2 separate regions of the Homo sapiens genome follow, and region 2 is linked to region 1. A link means that fine-mapping ties the variant in region 1 to the expression of a gene that starts in the linked region. Tissue or cell type: whole blood. Region 1 holds a variant in brackets; the other region holds the start of a gene. All regions are shown on one strand. Distances are between the middles of the regions.

What was found. PIP is the estimated chance that this variant, and not a neighbour inherited with it, causes the effect.
Region 2: ZCWPW1 starts here. The variant in region 1 is fine-mapped to the expression of ZCWPW1 in whole blood (INTERVAL, PIP above 0.99).

Annotation. Positions count from the first base shown.
Region 1 is chr7:99,922,233-99,930,088 of GRCh38, forward strand. GJC3 (gap junction protein gamma 3) reads right to left here and starts at 7,388. Exons shown (of 2, transcript NM_181538.3): 1 at 6,608-7,388; 2 at 1,034-1,371. The coding sequence starts at 7,388. The coding sequence ends at 1,313. It overlaps LOC101927610 (a long non-coding RNA gene), which reads left to right. Exons shown (of 2, transcript XR_001745296.3): 2 at 1-3,082. RefSeq lists enhancers at 6,601-7,186, 7,187-7,771. The variant C/CA (reference allele first, on the strand shown) is at 3,938.
Region 2 is chr7:100,425,927-100,431,826 of GRCh38, forward strand. ZCWPW1 (zinc finger CW-type and PWWP domain containing 1) reads right to left here and starts at 2,777. Exons shown (of 18, transcript NM_001386010.1): 1 at 2,642-2,777. It overlaps MEPCE (methylphosphate capping enzyme), which reads left to right and starts at 3,905. Exons shown (of 4, transcript NM_019606.6): 1 at 3,905-5,763. The coding sequence starts at 4,093. RefSeq lists silencers at 2,255-2,304, 4,125-4,594 and enhancers at 2,465-2,694, 3,715-3,854, 4,725-4,804.

The DNA of each region.
Region 1 (7,856 bases):
TCCATGGGCCCATTAGGAGACTGAACACAGTTGAGGAAAAAATCAGACTTGAAGGTAGGTAAATAGAAATTGCTGAAACACACACACACACACACACAAAAAGAGTGACAGAAACAGAACACAGCATCCAAGACTGGTGGGAAAATATCAACATCAAATCAAGAAATAGGCGCAGTGGCTCACCCCTGTAATCCCAGCACTTGGGGAGGCCGAGGCAGGCAGATCACGAGGTCAGGAGATCGAGACCATCCTAGCTAACGCAGTGAAACCCCGTCTCTACTAAAAATTCAAAAAAATTAGCCGGGCATGGTAGCAGGCACCTGTCGTCCCAGCTACTCGGGAGGCTGAGGTAAGAGAATTGCGTGAACCCGGGAGGCGGAGCTTGCAGTGAGCTGAGATCACACCACTGCACTCCAGCCTGGGCGACAGAGCAAGACTCTATCTCAAAAAAAAAAAAAAAATCAAGAAATAATGGCTGAGAATTTCCAAAATTTGTAAGACACCAAACCAATCCAAGGAGCTCAGAGAACACAGAGCAGGATAAATTCTTTAAAAAGAAACTAAGCTTATTGTATTCAAACTAAGCTTATTGTATTGATACCTGGTAGTTATAACTTACCAAATACACTGCCCAACATCTCCAGATGATCTATTATTTCTGAAAGTTTCCTTTATTACATTTCTTACTTCAGGGAGATATAGCCTTCGCTTCATGTTATGGTTGGTGCAGTCAGTATTCTCAGAAAGAAAGTACTGGTTCCATTTTACCTCCATCTTTTGTTTCCTGTCAGAAAACCTACCATACCACCAAGTACTCCTTCTCTACACTGCCTCTGATATTTAAGTAATTTGAGAATTCTGTTGAGACTATCTCCCTTTTTTGGTATGATGAATCTGGTCCTAAATTGCATGCCAAAGACTTTGAGAACTAAACTGTAGACCCAGATCTCATGTCCCAGACTGGCCTTTTGTTACCCACACAATGAATGGGTTAAATTGCTTGGCAGGGGACAGTCCAATGACCACAACCAAGGAGGATTTCCCAGGGGGATTTTATTACTTGCGATAAGTAAGGAGGACACTGGGAATAATTCCCCAAAGCAATGCCTCCCTGAGCAATGGTGCAAACATGGCTTTTATTAGTCTGGTTAGCTGAGTCATTGTATGTAGAGGTGGAGTCAAGGCAGCGCAGTCCCAGTTGTCGGTTATGCTGCTACATATGTCACATGTATAGAAAATGGTGAATAAGCTCCTCCTTGGACAGGATTTTAAGTATGGTGATGAGGAAAGTTGGCCAAAGTTCATCTCCAACTCAGGCATCTCTGGGTCCAACTGGTCTTTGTTTTTCCTGGGCTAAGCTTCTTCCTGGAACTTTTTAAAACAAAAATTCAAGATGTAACAGTTACAAGTGTGTAACTTTTTCACAGTGCGTACCCAAAACCCAAGGACCCTGGGTTACACTTTAGGTGCCACCCATGTGGGACCTATCAGAAGAGTACTACAAAGGCTTTGAAAACTGAACTGACATTGGAACCACAACCCTCAGAAGGCTGGTCAAAACTTATGACTTGAACCCAAATGGGTTAATTACCCTTTAAAACATAAATATCAACATCCTCCACCAAATTTAACCAAGACCCAGAGCATCCTAATGACATTCAAAATGTCCAGGATACAATCGATATTAATTGGCAGGTGAAGAACCAGGAAAATCTCAACTCACGTTGGGAAAAAATGTAACAGATGCAGAATGTAAGTTGCCACACATGTTGGAATTATCAAGACTATAAAGCTGCTATTCAAATGGAAAGTTTAAAAGTCTCAGAGAAGTAATAGAAAATACAAAGAATAGCCCCATGGAAATTTTAGAACGGGAAAATACAAAAACCGTCATCACATCATATCCGGGGCACATGCTGTCAACATTGCTCATCACTGTTGATGTTAACCTTGATCACCCGGCTGAGGTAGTATTTGATGGGTTTCTCCCTGTAAAGTTATTCTTTCCCCTCCCCCTATTTTACTGTTTAGTGGGAAGTCACTATGTGCAGCCCATGCCTAAAAAGGGAGTAGTTGGTGGGCACGGTGGCTCACGCCTGTAATCCCAGCACTTTGGGAGGCTGAGTGGGTGGATCACCTGAGGTCAGGAGTTCGAGACCAGCTTGGCCGACATGGTGAAACCCCGTCTCTGCTAAAAATACAAAAATTAGCCAGGCATGGTGGTGCACGCCTGTAATCCCAGCTATTCAGGAGGCTGAGGCAGGAGAACTGCTTGAACCTGGGAGGCAGAGATTGCAGTGATCCTGCCATTGCACTCCAGCCTGGGCGATGAGCAAAATTCCATCTCAAAAGAAAAAAAAGTGAGTAGTTATATTTCCCCTCCTTGCGGTGGAGTATCTACATTCTTCTGCATGAGAAATTTGTCAGTTATCTCCTATTTATTCAATTATTTATATTATGAATTCATGGATTCCTATTTTATACTTTGGGTATAATCCAATACTATGTTGTTTATTTTACTGCTCAGATTATTCCTGTGTTGGCCATTGGGAACTTTTTCAGTTGACATCTGTGTCCCTTTGACAAACTCCTGTCATTTTGTGGGGAAGAGGGAGTAGCACTTTCTTACTTTCTACCGCTACAAAATCCTCCAGTCTTATCTTGTATTTCTCTTCCCTAACCCTAAAGTCAATCATTCTCATTTCTCTAATGATAAATGATGTTAAACATCTTTTCATATGCTTTCTTATTATCTGTATATCTTCTCTGATGATTACCAAGGATGGGAAGGGTAGTAGGGGGAAAGTGGAGATGGTTAATGGGTACAAAAAATAGAATGAATAAGAATTAGTAGTTGATAGCACAACAGGGTGATTACAGTCAAAAATAATTGTACATTATAAAATAACTAGTATAATTGGATTATTTATAACAAAGGCTGAAGGCTTGAGGTGATAAATACCCCATTTACCCTGATGTGACTATTACACATTGCATACCTGTATCAAAATACCTTGTATACCCCATAAATATATAACCTACTATGTACCCATTTAAATAAAAAAAGTTTTTAAAAAAGAAATAGTGCTGAGACAATTGAATATCCACATGCAAAAGATAAAGTTTGACATTTATCTTACACCATACACAAAAATTAACTCAAAACCAACCAGAGACCTAAATGTAAGAGCTGAAACTATACAACTCTTATGGAAACATAGGCATTAATCTTTATGGCTGTGAATTAGGCAATAGTTTCTTAGGTAATACACAAAAATCATAAGCAACAAAAGAAAAAATTGGATGTTAGACTTCATTAAAATTTAAAACTTTTGTGCATCACTATCAAGAAAGTGAAAGACAATCATAGAATGGGAGAAGATATTTGGAAATCATACATACAATAAGTATCTAATACCCACAATATATAAAGAGCTCTTACAATGCAACAACAAAAATACAAAAAACTCTATTTATAAATGGGAAAAGGATTTGAATAGACATTTCTCCAAAGAAGATATACAAATAACCACTAAGCACATGGAAAATGTTCAATGTAATTAGCCATTAGGCAAGTGCAAATCAAAACTACAATGAGATACCACTTCACACCCACTAGGATGGCTAGAATTTAATAGATAAATAAAAAGTATTCCCACATTGCTGGTAGGAATGTAAAAATAGTGCAGCTGCTGTGGAAAAGAGTTTGGCAGTTCCTCAAAAGTTGAAACGTGGAGTTTCCTTATGACCCAGACATTCTATTCCTGGTTATTTATGCAAGAGAACTGACAACATGTGTTTACACAACACTAAAACTGGGGCCAGGTGTGGTGGCTCAGGACTGTTGTTCCAGCACTTTGGGAAGCTGAGGCAGGCAGATAACCTGAGGTCAGGAGTTTGAGACCAGCCTGGCCAACATGGCAAAACCCTGTCTCTA[C/CA]AAAAAATACAAAAATTAGCTGGGTGTGGTGGTGCGCACCTGTAGTCCCAGGTACTCAGGACGCTGAAGCAGGAGAATCGCTTGAACCCAGGAAGTGGAGGTTGCAATAAGCCAAGATCACACCACTGCACTCCAGTCTGGGTGACAGAGTGAGACTCCATCCCAAAAAAAAAAAAAAAAGTGGTACACATATGTTCATAGCAACAGTGGTCATAAGAGCCAAAAAATGGAAACAACCCAAATGTCCTGAAACTGAAGAATGTATAAACAAAATGTGGTATCTCCTTAAACAAAATGTGGTATATCCTAACAGTGGAATAACACTCAACCATATAAAGGAATGTAATACTGAAACATGCCACAACATGAATGAACCTCAAGTTATGCTCAGTGAAAGAAGCCAGACATGAAAGACCACATATTGCATGATTCCATTTGTATGAAAGAGTAGGAAAACCAATAGAGACAAAACCATATGATGGTTGCATGTTTTGGGTGCTAATAAGAGTTTGAGAGTAACATGAGGGGGTAGGGTTTTTTTAAGTTGATGAAAATGTTATTAAATTGGTAGTGTTGATGGATATACAACTCTGAATATACTAAAGGCTATTTAATTGTATACTTTTGTCACTGGTAGAGGATAGTGACTGCAAGTTGTCCAGGTTCTTGGCGTTTTGAACAAGGAATTGGACAAAACTCCTAGCAAAGCAAAGAAAGGATGAAGCAACAAAAGAACGAAAGCAGGGATTTATTGAAAACCAAAGTACACGCCACAGTGTGGGAGCAATCCGAGCAGCGGTTCAAGGGCACGGATACACAATCTTCTTGGGTCCCAGTACCCACTAGAAGTTTCCCTTTGGCCAGTTCATGCTTTGCAGAAAGCAACCAATCAGAGGCTAGGAAGAAGTTACGAAGTTGCAAAGGAAGACTCATCTGCAAACAGCCTGATTTGTTGGGGACAGGCAATTTCCCATCTGCTGCACAGAAAAGGTGGGGGTGTTGCAAAGGGAGTAGCCTCTGGTCCTTGTGTTACTTAGGCAAGGAAAGTTAGAGTTTTCCTTTCAATTTAGTCCTAGGAAGTTGGCGTGAAACAGCCTTAGGTTCCCTTCCTCCAGAACCTATTCTCCTGCCTCACTTTAAGTGGATAAATTATATGGTGTATGAATTATATCTCAATAAAGCTGTTTTAAAAGGGGGTGGTATAAGGAAGAATTCCAAATGATGCTATTTGCGTTTTTCCTTGGTCACTTTGGCTGGGCTCTGGCTACAGTGGATGAGGGATTCTTATGAAGCACTTGTGTAGCAGGAAGAAAAAAAAAATTTCCTAGCTATTGCCAAAGCATCCCTTGGGATCCCCTAACTTACTTGGGGATAATTTGGGATTCAGAAAGAGAAAAAAAAATAGATAACTGCCTTTGTTGAGAATTTCAGGGCAAGAGAAAACTAAGAAAAGAGGGCAGCGTTCTGTTAAAAAAAAAAAGGGATAGAACAACACTGTCCAACAGAAATGACTAAGAGACTCGAGAAGACTGATATTCAGATTGCAGTTACCCGCCGAATCACACTGTGATGTCAGCCTCCCTTGCTGTTACTCCCAAATCAGCATATCAGCAGTAGAACTCTACTGCTTTTTCTGTGTGGTATTGAGGGTTATGAAATTAAAGAGTAGGAACTTGGTCCAGCATGAGTTGCTGCAGTTCTGGAGACAATTGTAACAAGCTGCAACGAGAACTGCAGAAATGAAGAATGAGAATTGAGCAGAAATCAGAGCTATCAGTGATCAAGGGGGCCTAAGCCCCTGAATTCACAGTAATTTTCCTTAAGGATATGGCCGGGTATTTGGATAAATCTATAGATATTAGAGGACACTGACTTATATATGCTTGAAGCCCAGAGTTTCTGGCTTATGACATGTGCTGCAGGTCTGAGGGGCATTCATTTACAAAACTTTGATGATAAGGGGAGCAGAGAATGTGGAAAAACAGAAAAGAGGTAAATGAAGCCAGTGAGACAGGAAGGGGCATTATCTTCAGCAACAGGAATGCCAACAGCAGTCATCAATATTTATTGAGCAGGACAGGGGAGAGACACAGTTTAGGGAGGCTTCTCCCGGCTGACTCTTGAACCAAGCCCATAAAAATTGTGATGCTGACACCAGAAAATTCCAGTGAAAAGGCACAGTCAGGAAATGCTTTAGACTACATGGCCCAAGGGGCCCTTAGAGATCCTTCAACAGCCTCTAATTTGTCACAGACATGAATCCCCACTCACTGGATGTTGGAAAGAAGATTCAATCACAGAGTTTCCTTCAGGCAAGTCAGGTGTCTTTATAACTCTGCAAAGTAGAGAATCAAGAAGAAGCTGAGATTTTTCCTAAGTGGAGAGAGACCTAAATGGAAGTTCAGGAGGGACAACGGACTAGCACTCTTGTCCTTGTTCGCTGGAAGGAACCATCAAGTTGATGGGGATGGACATTGGGATAGATTTTGAGAGCAAGAGAGAACAAAGAAAAGGGTTGGGAGTGGCGGTCAGAACACATCTGCCTAGAACCTGGTTACCTACTTTGTAACATGCAGAAGTTGTACTTCCCAGAAAGGTGAGGGACCTGCCCCGGGAGGAGATCATCAGGACACAAACATCAGTGACAGGAAGAGAGCGTGTCCTTCTCACCTGCTTCTTGAAATTGCTCTTTGGTTTCCACCACTGGGAGGCTATCGGTTGCTTTCTTGTGTCTTCTGGTGCTCTCTGAAGTTAGGAAGTATTTAGAAGAGGAAGATTTGTGCTTCCAGGTCCTCCACCATCTCCCCAAACCCAGAAGCACAAGCTCCAAAAAAGTAAACAAGAGACAGAAACCGCTGACTCCAAACATGGTCTTTAGGAAAATGGTCTTCTCAGAGGGGCGGGACAGATTGCAGGTTATACTACCAAGGCAAGGTTCTCGGCGACATGCAAAGGAGCTGGGCATCTGGAACCCATACAGGTGGTACTGCAACCCCAGGGCTGCCCCCTCCAGGACAAGCCGAGCCCCCAGCTGAGCCACATAAGCCCAGAGCAGCCTGAGGCTTCCAGCCCCTGGGACATCTGTGTTGCCCTCCCGTCCCTGGATCAGGGTCTCCTCCTCCTTCCCCTTTCCTGATAATTCCCAGTGCCAGATCACGTGATACAGAGTGAAACCCATATAGAGGGCGCTGGGTACAGCCACCAAGATGACCTGGAAGACCCAGAAACGCAGCGGGGAGAGGGGGTGGAAGGCATCGAAGCAGGCAGCCTTGCAGCCCGGCTGCTGGGTGTGACACACGAATTCACTCTGCTCATCACCATAGACTCCAGGCCCACTGGCAGCCAGCAGCACAAGGCGGAATCCCAGGAGCACGGGAAGCAAGAGGCGCCCCACGGGGGTGGAGCGCCGGCTCTCCTCCGCCAGCAGCCGCCGCAGGAACCTGCCACACATCCTGTTTTGGAGCAGAGGACAAGAGATCAGTGTTGTTCACTGTCCTTCAGAGGGAGCTCCAGTCCACCTTGTCACTCCTAATCCAAGGATCACTGAAGGCAAGCTTTTTTATTCCTCTCCAAGTATCTGACTGATTAAATACCAAGACTCTGATTGCACCTCTTTACTACTTAATGAAATCATCTATGTAAAATAATAACAGTGAGTGTGTGTGGTGTGGCTCTCTCTTCTGCCCTCCCCTTCTGTACTGCTGGAGTGGAGAGGAACTCTCAGGTTGGAGAGACCAGGATACATCTTCATCTCTCTCTTTCCCTCCTTCCCTCCGTCTCTCTTTCCCAAAGGCTGAACGTAAGAGAGTAGACTGGGATGTTTTGTTAATTTTCCTTTGAAAGGTATTGCTTCCCCAGCTGATGGCTGCCAGGCCTGGTGCTCCTACAGCATCATCTTAAGCAAATTAGTGCTGATGCT
Region 2 (5,900 bases), 500 kb after region 1:
ATAAATTTTAAGGGTATAAAAGGGTTCTCAAACCAAAAAGTTTGAGAACTGACCTAGTGAAATAACTTGTCAGTATTGCCAATACTTTTTTAAATAAACAGTAATTCTCTCTCCCCACACACCATTCAGAATGTGTTCCCAAATTTCCTCTTCCTAACCATCCAATCATTCCCTTCCTTATATTGTTCCTCAAATCCTTGGTCTAAGAGAAGTAAACCCTTTAGCATTGTCCTCTAACCCAGACTCCCTGAGCCTCAAAAAAGCGGTATTTAAAGAGTATATTTCAGCCGGGCGCAGTGGCTCACGCCTGTAATTCCAGCACTTTGGGAGGCCAAGGCAGGTGGATCACCTAAGGTCAGGAGTTCAAGACCAGCCTGACCAACATGGTGAAGCCCCATCTCTACTAAAATACAAAAATTAGCCAGCGTGGTGGCAGGCGCCTGTAATCTCAGCTACTTGGGAGGCTGAAGCAGGAGAATCACTTGAACCCAGGAGGTGGAGGTTGCAGTGAGCCAAGACCGTGCTACTGCACTCCAGCCTGGGCAAAATGAGTGAGACTCTGTCTCAAAAAAAAAAAAAAAAAAAAGTATATTTCAAATCTTTTTTAAGCCAGAGTCTGATCTTCCTTTTTGCATTAATAACAGTATGTGGACTCCTGCTTATTTTCATGCCTCAATTAACTAATAGCAGTTTCCTCCCTCCCTCTCACTTTTTCTCCCTCCCTCTCTCCCTCCTTTACTCCTTCCTCCCTCTTCCCTCCCTCTCTTCCTTCTTCCCTCCTTCTGTCTCCCTTTGTCCCTCCATCCCTTCCTCCCCCTCCTTCTCTCCCTCCCCCTCCTTCCTTGCCCTCCTCCCTTTCTCTCTCCCTCTTCCCTCCCTCCTCCCCCTCTCCTTTCTCCCCCTCCTCCTTCCCTTTCCTCCCCCTCTCCTTCCTACCCCCCTCCCCCTCCTCCCTTCCCTGCTTCCCCTCCTTCTTCCTTCCTCTCCCTCCCTCCCTTCTCCCTCCCCCTCCTCCCTCCCCTTTCCTCCCCCTCCTCCCTTCCCCCTTTCCTCCCTCCCTCTCTTCTCCTTCCCTCCCTCCCGTTTCCTCCCCCTCCTCCCTCCCTCCCCTTTCCTCCCTCCCTCTCTTATCCTTCCCTCCCTCTCTCTTCTCCTTCCCTCCCTCTCTCTCTTCTCCTTCCCTCCCTCCCCTTTCCTCCCCCTCCTCCCTCCCTCCTCCCTTTCCTCCCTCCCTCTCTCTCTTCTCCTTCCCTCCCTCCTTCCTTCCTCCCCCTTCCCTCCCTCCTTCCTTCCTCCCCCTTCCCTCCCTCCTTCCTTCCTCCCCCTTCCCTCCCTTGCTTTCTTCCTTCGTGTTTGTGCACAAGCTCAGCAAGCCCGATTTAAAACTTTTAACAAGAAAGAAGAGGCGGGTGGATCACCTTAAGTCAGGAGTTCGGGACCAGCCTGGCCAATACGGTGAAACCCCGTCTCTACTAAAAATACAAAAAAATCAGCCGAGCACGGTGGCGCGTGCCTGTAATCCCAGCATTTTGGGAGGCCAAGGTGGGCGGATCACCTAAGGTCAGGAGTTCGAGACCAGCCTGGCCAACATGGAGAAACCCCGTCTCTACTAAAAATACAAAATTAGCCGGGCACAGTGGCGGGCGCCTGTAGTCCCAGCTCCTCGGGAGGCTGAGGCAGGGGAATCGCTTGAACCCAGGAGGTGGGGGTTGCAGTGAGCCGAGACTGCGCCACTGCACTCCAGCCTGGGCGACAGAGCGAGACAGTCTTTAAAAAAAAAAAAAAAAAAGCCCCAATTCCAAATCCACCTGCAATCCAAAGGGAAGAAGTTTTGCAGAGAAGTTCTTCCCATTTGTGGGGCGCTCCCATTTTTCCTCTCTTCCCTCACCCCTTATTCTCTCTCAGGGATAGCGGTTCAAGTCGGTGTCCCTGAGCCACACGTCCCCCTCTCTCTTCCCCGTCCCCTCCCTTCCTTCCTCCCACCATGAGGGAATCTCCCCTCCACCCCCACTCCTGCCGAGGCCCCGTGATCCTTATTCTCACTCATATCGTTGGTGCCCGCCAGGAGACTGGGCTATTTTTTTTTTGTCTGTTTCTTGGGGGCGACAGATTCTGAGGAAAAAGGGCGAAGGGCTGGTTGTCGCCCTGAGAAAGTTTCTCCTCAGGCAACGGGTGCCAGGACTGGCAGCGCCTAGCACCTTCACCTACAACCAGAAACTAGCTGGCTACCTTCAGGAGCAAGGAGGACCTAAAGGCGATGGGCGGAACCAGCTGCCGCAGCGACTCCGCAAGCCCCTCACACCTCAACCCAGGTTTCCCGCCACCAAGAAAAGGCACGAGGACGCCCTGAGCACTAGCTCCACCCGAGGGCGGTGCGCTCGCGGGGCCGAGGCGCATGCGCAACTGGAAACAGCGTCTGCGTTTCCGCAGCTGAGGTAAATCCGCCATCTTCCACCCGAACGTCCCGGGAAAACTACAAATCCCAGAATCCTCTTTGGTGTCACATATTTTTAGGCGGCGGCCGCGGCGCCTGATTGTTCCTGAAGCACATCTACTAACTTTTCTGTTTCAGACTGCCTTTTCCTCCCTCTTTCCGTTCTCTAATTCCTCCTCTTCCTGCTGGTCTCCTTCACGCCCTCACCTTAGGATTTTGAGACTCTCCTGGACCCCACTGTCACCCCTGCCGCCCTGTCCTCGGCCCAGCACTCCGCTGGCAGGGAGACCGGGCGGCGCATCTCCCCGGGAAAACGGCGTAGACTCGCTTCTTCCTCATTGGCAGAAGCTGGGGGGGCCCAGCGCGGACCGAACCCCCGTCCCCGCCCACACTCGCTGGTATATAAGTCGGCGTGGCGCCGCGGTGGGTGTTGAGAGGCCCGCGAACTGACGGGCCAGTGAGCGGGCGTCGGGAGTGGGCGGATGCGTTGGGGTTCGGGTCGTGGGTGTTGAGGCGGAGAGGAAGGCGTGGTGTGGCGTCTCCAGGTGATTGCGATTGGGGGAAGGTAGAGGAGCCAGAGAACGACTCAGCCGTTTCGGGGGAAGAGGAAGTTGGACAACATCGGCTGTTTTAGTGCTTTTTATTTTTCCCCAATTCAGCAGAGAATATTTTCAAGGGGGGTGAGTTATAATGACCTATCGCGTTTTACTGAGCCCAGTTCCACTCCCGCCCTTCCTTGGCTTTGTAGGGTCTCCCCTCCGCTCCCTCGGAAGCGCTTCTAAGAAGGTGGGCAGAGGGGGGGAGGTTTGCTACCAACAGCTCATGAATAATTCATGAGCCCCGCCCTTCGTCAGGAAGCCCCGCCCCTCCGGATCGCGCTGACGCACGCTGCGTTTACCAAACTTAAGGAAGCGACGTCACAGGCCCAACCCCTAAGACGGGGGGCGGGGCGCCAGTTTCAGCACGTGCTGCCTCTACCCGCGCAAGCCCAAAAGGGTGTGCGCAGGCGCTGCCCACTAGGGGGGAGGAAGGAGGCGGGGTGGGGAGGTTGTTGGATTTAGAGCCGGGCGGAGACCGCTGAGACTCATTCCTCAGGAACAAGGGTCGGGTGTCAAGGAGACCTTTTCACACCAGCTCCCGTCCCCCGCCTACGGTGGGTGGGATCGCGCGGCAGAGACAAAGGAGATCAGTAGGGCCGGACATAGCTGCGCAGGGAAGTAGGGTGTCAGTTTGGGGTGGTGGGCTTTTGCGGGGGCTGTGGGGGGGTTATATTTAAACTCCCAGAGCCGTTAAGTTGGTTCGTAGTCTGATGCGCGCGCAACCAGGGTGGTGGCGGAGTGCGCATGCGTGGTTCCCGGGCGAAGGGAACGCGCGCTCACCGTGCGCGCTCGCGGCCGGGTGGTAGTGGCGGAGGAGAAAGGGGTCGGCGCACGCGCGGTTGAGTCCTCGAGTAGTTCGGGTCTCGCGGGCCTCTTGTTTTGGTCTCGCGGGCTAGTAGGGCGCACTTGGCGGGGAGGCGCTTGGGCGCGAGACTAGGCGTGAAGAGCAGAGCTGCGCGCGCACTCGGGAAAGGGGGGAAGGGAGCAGGGTCCAGGCAGGGGGGGTTAGGCCCCCTGATCCCCCTCGTTACCCCGACTGGCACGGAATAAGGGGAGGAAATGATCGAGATGGCGGCGGAGAAGGAGCCGTTTCTGGTGCCGGCCCCGCCGCCGCCGCTCAAAGATGAGTCGGGCGGAGGGGGCGGCCCCACGGTGCCACCGCACCAAGAGGCCGCCTCTGGGGAGCTCCGCGGCGGGACGGAGCGTGGTCCGGGTCGTTGCGCGCCATCTGCGGGGTCCCCAGCCGCTGCGGTCGGTCGGGAAAGCCCCGGGGCCGCGGCCACCTCCTCCAGTGGTCCCCAGGCGCAGCAGCACCGAGGGGGCGGCCCCCAGGCGCAGTCGCATGGGGAGGCCCGCCTGTCGGATCCCCCGGGGCGAGCCGCTCCCCCGGACGTGGGGGAGGAGCGCCGGGGAGGGGGCGGGACAGAGCTGGGTCCCCCTGCTCCTCCTCGACCCCGCAATGGCTATCAGCCCCACCGGCCACCTGGGGGGGGCGGGGGCAAGAGGAGAAATAGCTGTAATGTAGGGGGAGGCGGGGGAGGCTTCAAACATCCGGCCTTCAAGAGGCGCAGGCGGGTGAATTCGGACTGTGACTCTGTGTTACCCTCCAACTTCCTCCTGGGGGGCAATATCTTTGATCCCCTGAACCTGAATAGCCTCCTGGATGAGGAAGTGAGCCGCACTCTCAACGCGGAGACCCCTAAGTCATCCCCCCTTCCGGCCAAAGGGCGAGATCCGGTGGAGATCCTCATCCCCAAAGATATTACTGACCCGCTCAGTCTCAATACTTGCACTGATGAGGGCCATGTAGTTCTTGCTTCGCCACTCAAGACTGGTCGGAAGCGGCATAGACACCGGGGACAGCACCACCAGCAGCAGCAGGCAGCCGGAGGGAGTGAGAGTCACCCCGTGCCGCCCACAGCCCCTCTCACCCCCTTACTCCACGGGGAGGGCGCCTCACAGCAGCCGCGGCACAGGGGCCAGAACCGGGATGCCCCCCAACCCTATGAACTCAACACAGCCATCAACTGCAGGGATGAAGTGGTGTCTCCCCTTCCATCTGCTCTGCAGGGTCCCTCAGGCTCCCTATCAGCCCCTCCAGCTGCCTCAGTTATCTCTGCACCCCCATCTTCCTCCTCCCGACATCGCAAACGTCGCAGGACTTCCAGCAAGTCGGAGGCAGGGGCTAGGGGTGGAGGCCAGGGTTCCAAGGAAAAGGGCCGAGGGAGTTGGGGAGGCCGCCACCACCACCACCACCCACTGCCTGCAGCAGGCTTCAAAAAGCAACAGCGCAAGTTCCAGTATGGGAATTATTGCAAATACTATGGGTACCGCAATCCTTCCTGTGAGGATGGGCGCCTTCGGGTGTTGAAGCCTGAGTGGTTTCGGGGCCGGGACGTCCTAGATCTGGGCTGCAATGTGGGCCATCTGACCCTGAGCATTGCCTGCAAGTGGGGCCCGTCCCGCATGGTGGGCCTGGATATCGATTCCCGGCTCATCCATTCTGCCCGCCAAAACATCCGACACTACCTTTCCGAGGAGCTGCGTCTCCCACCCCAGACTTTGGAAGGGGACCCGGGGGCAGAGGGTGAGGAAGGGACCACCACCGTTCGAAAGAGGAGCTGCTTCCCAGCCTCGCTGACTGCCAGCCGGGGTCCCATCGCTGCCCCCCAAGTGCCCTTGGATGGAGCGGACACATCAGTCTTCCCCAACAATGTTGTCTTCGTCACGGTAAGAGGGTCCAGAGGCTCTTGGAATAGGGGCCAGGTGTGAAGATGAGATTAAATGGGAATGTAGCAGGGAAGGTTATGACCCAGATCCTCAAAAGAGGGGTCTGGGTTGGCAAGTGAGAGCCTCTGCTGGGCGTC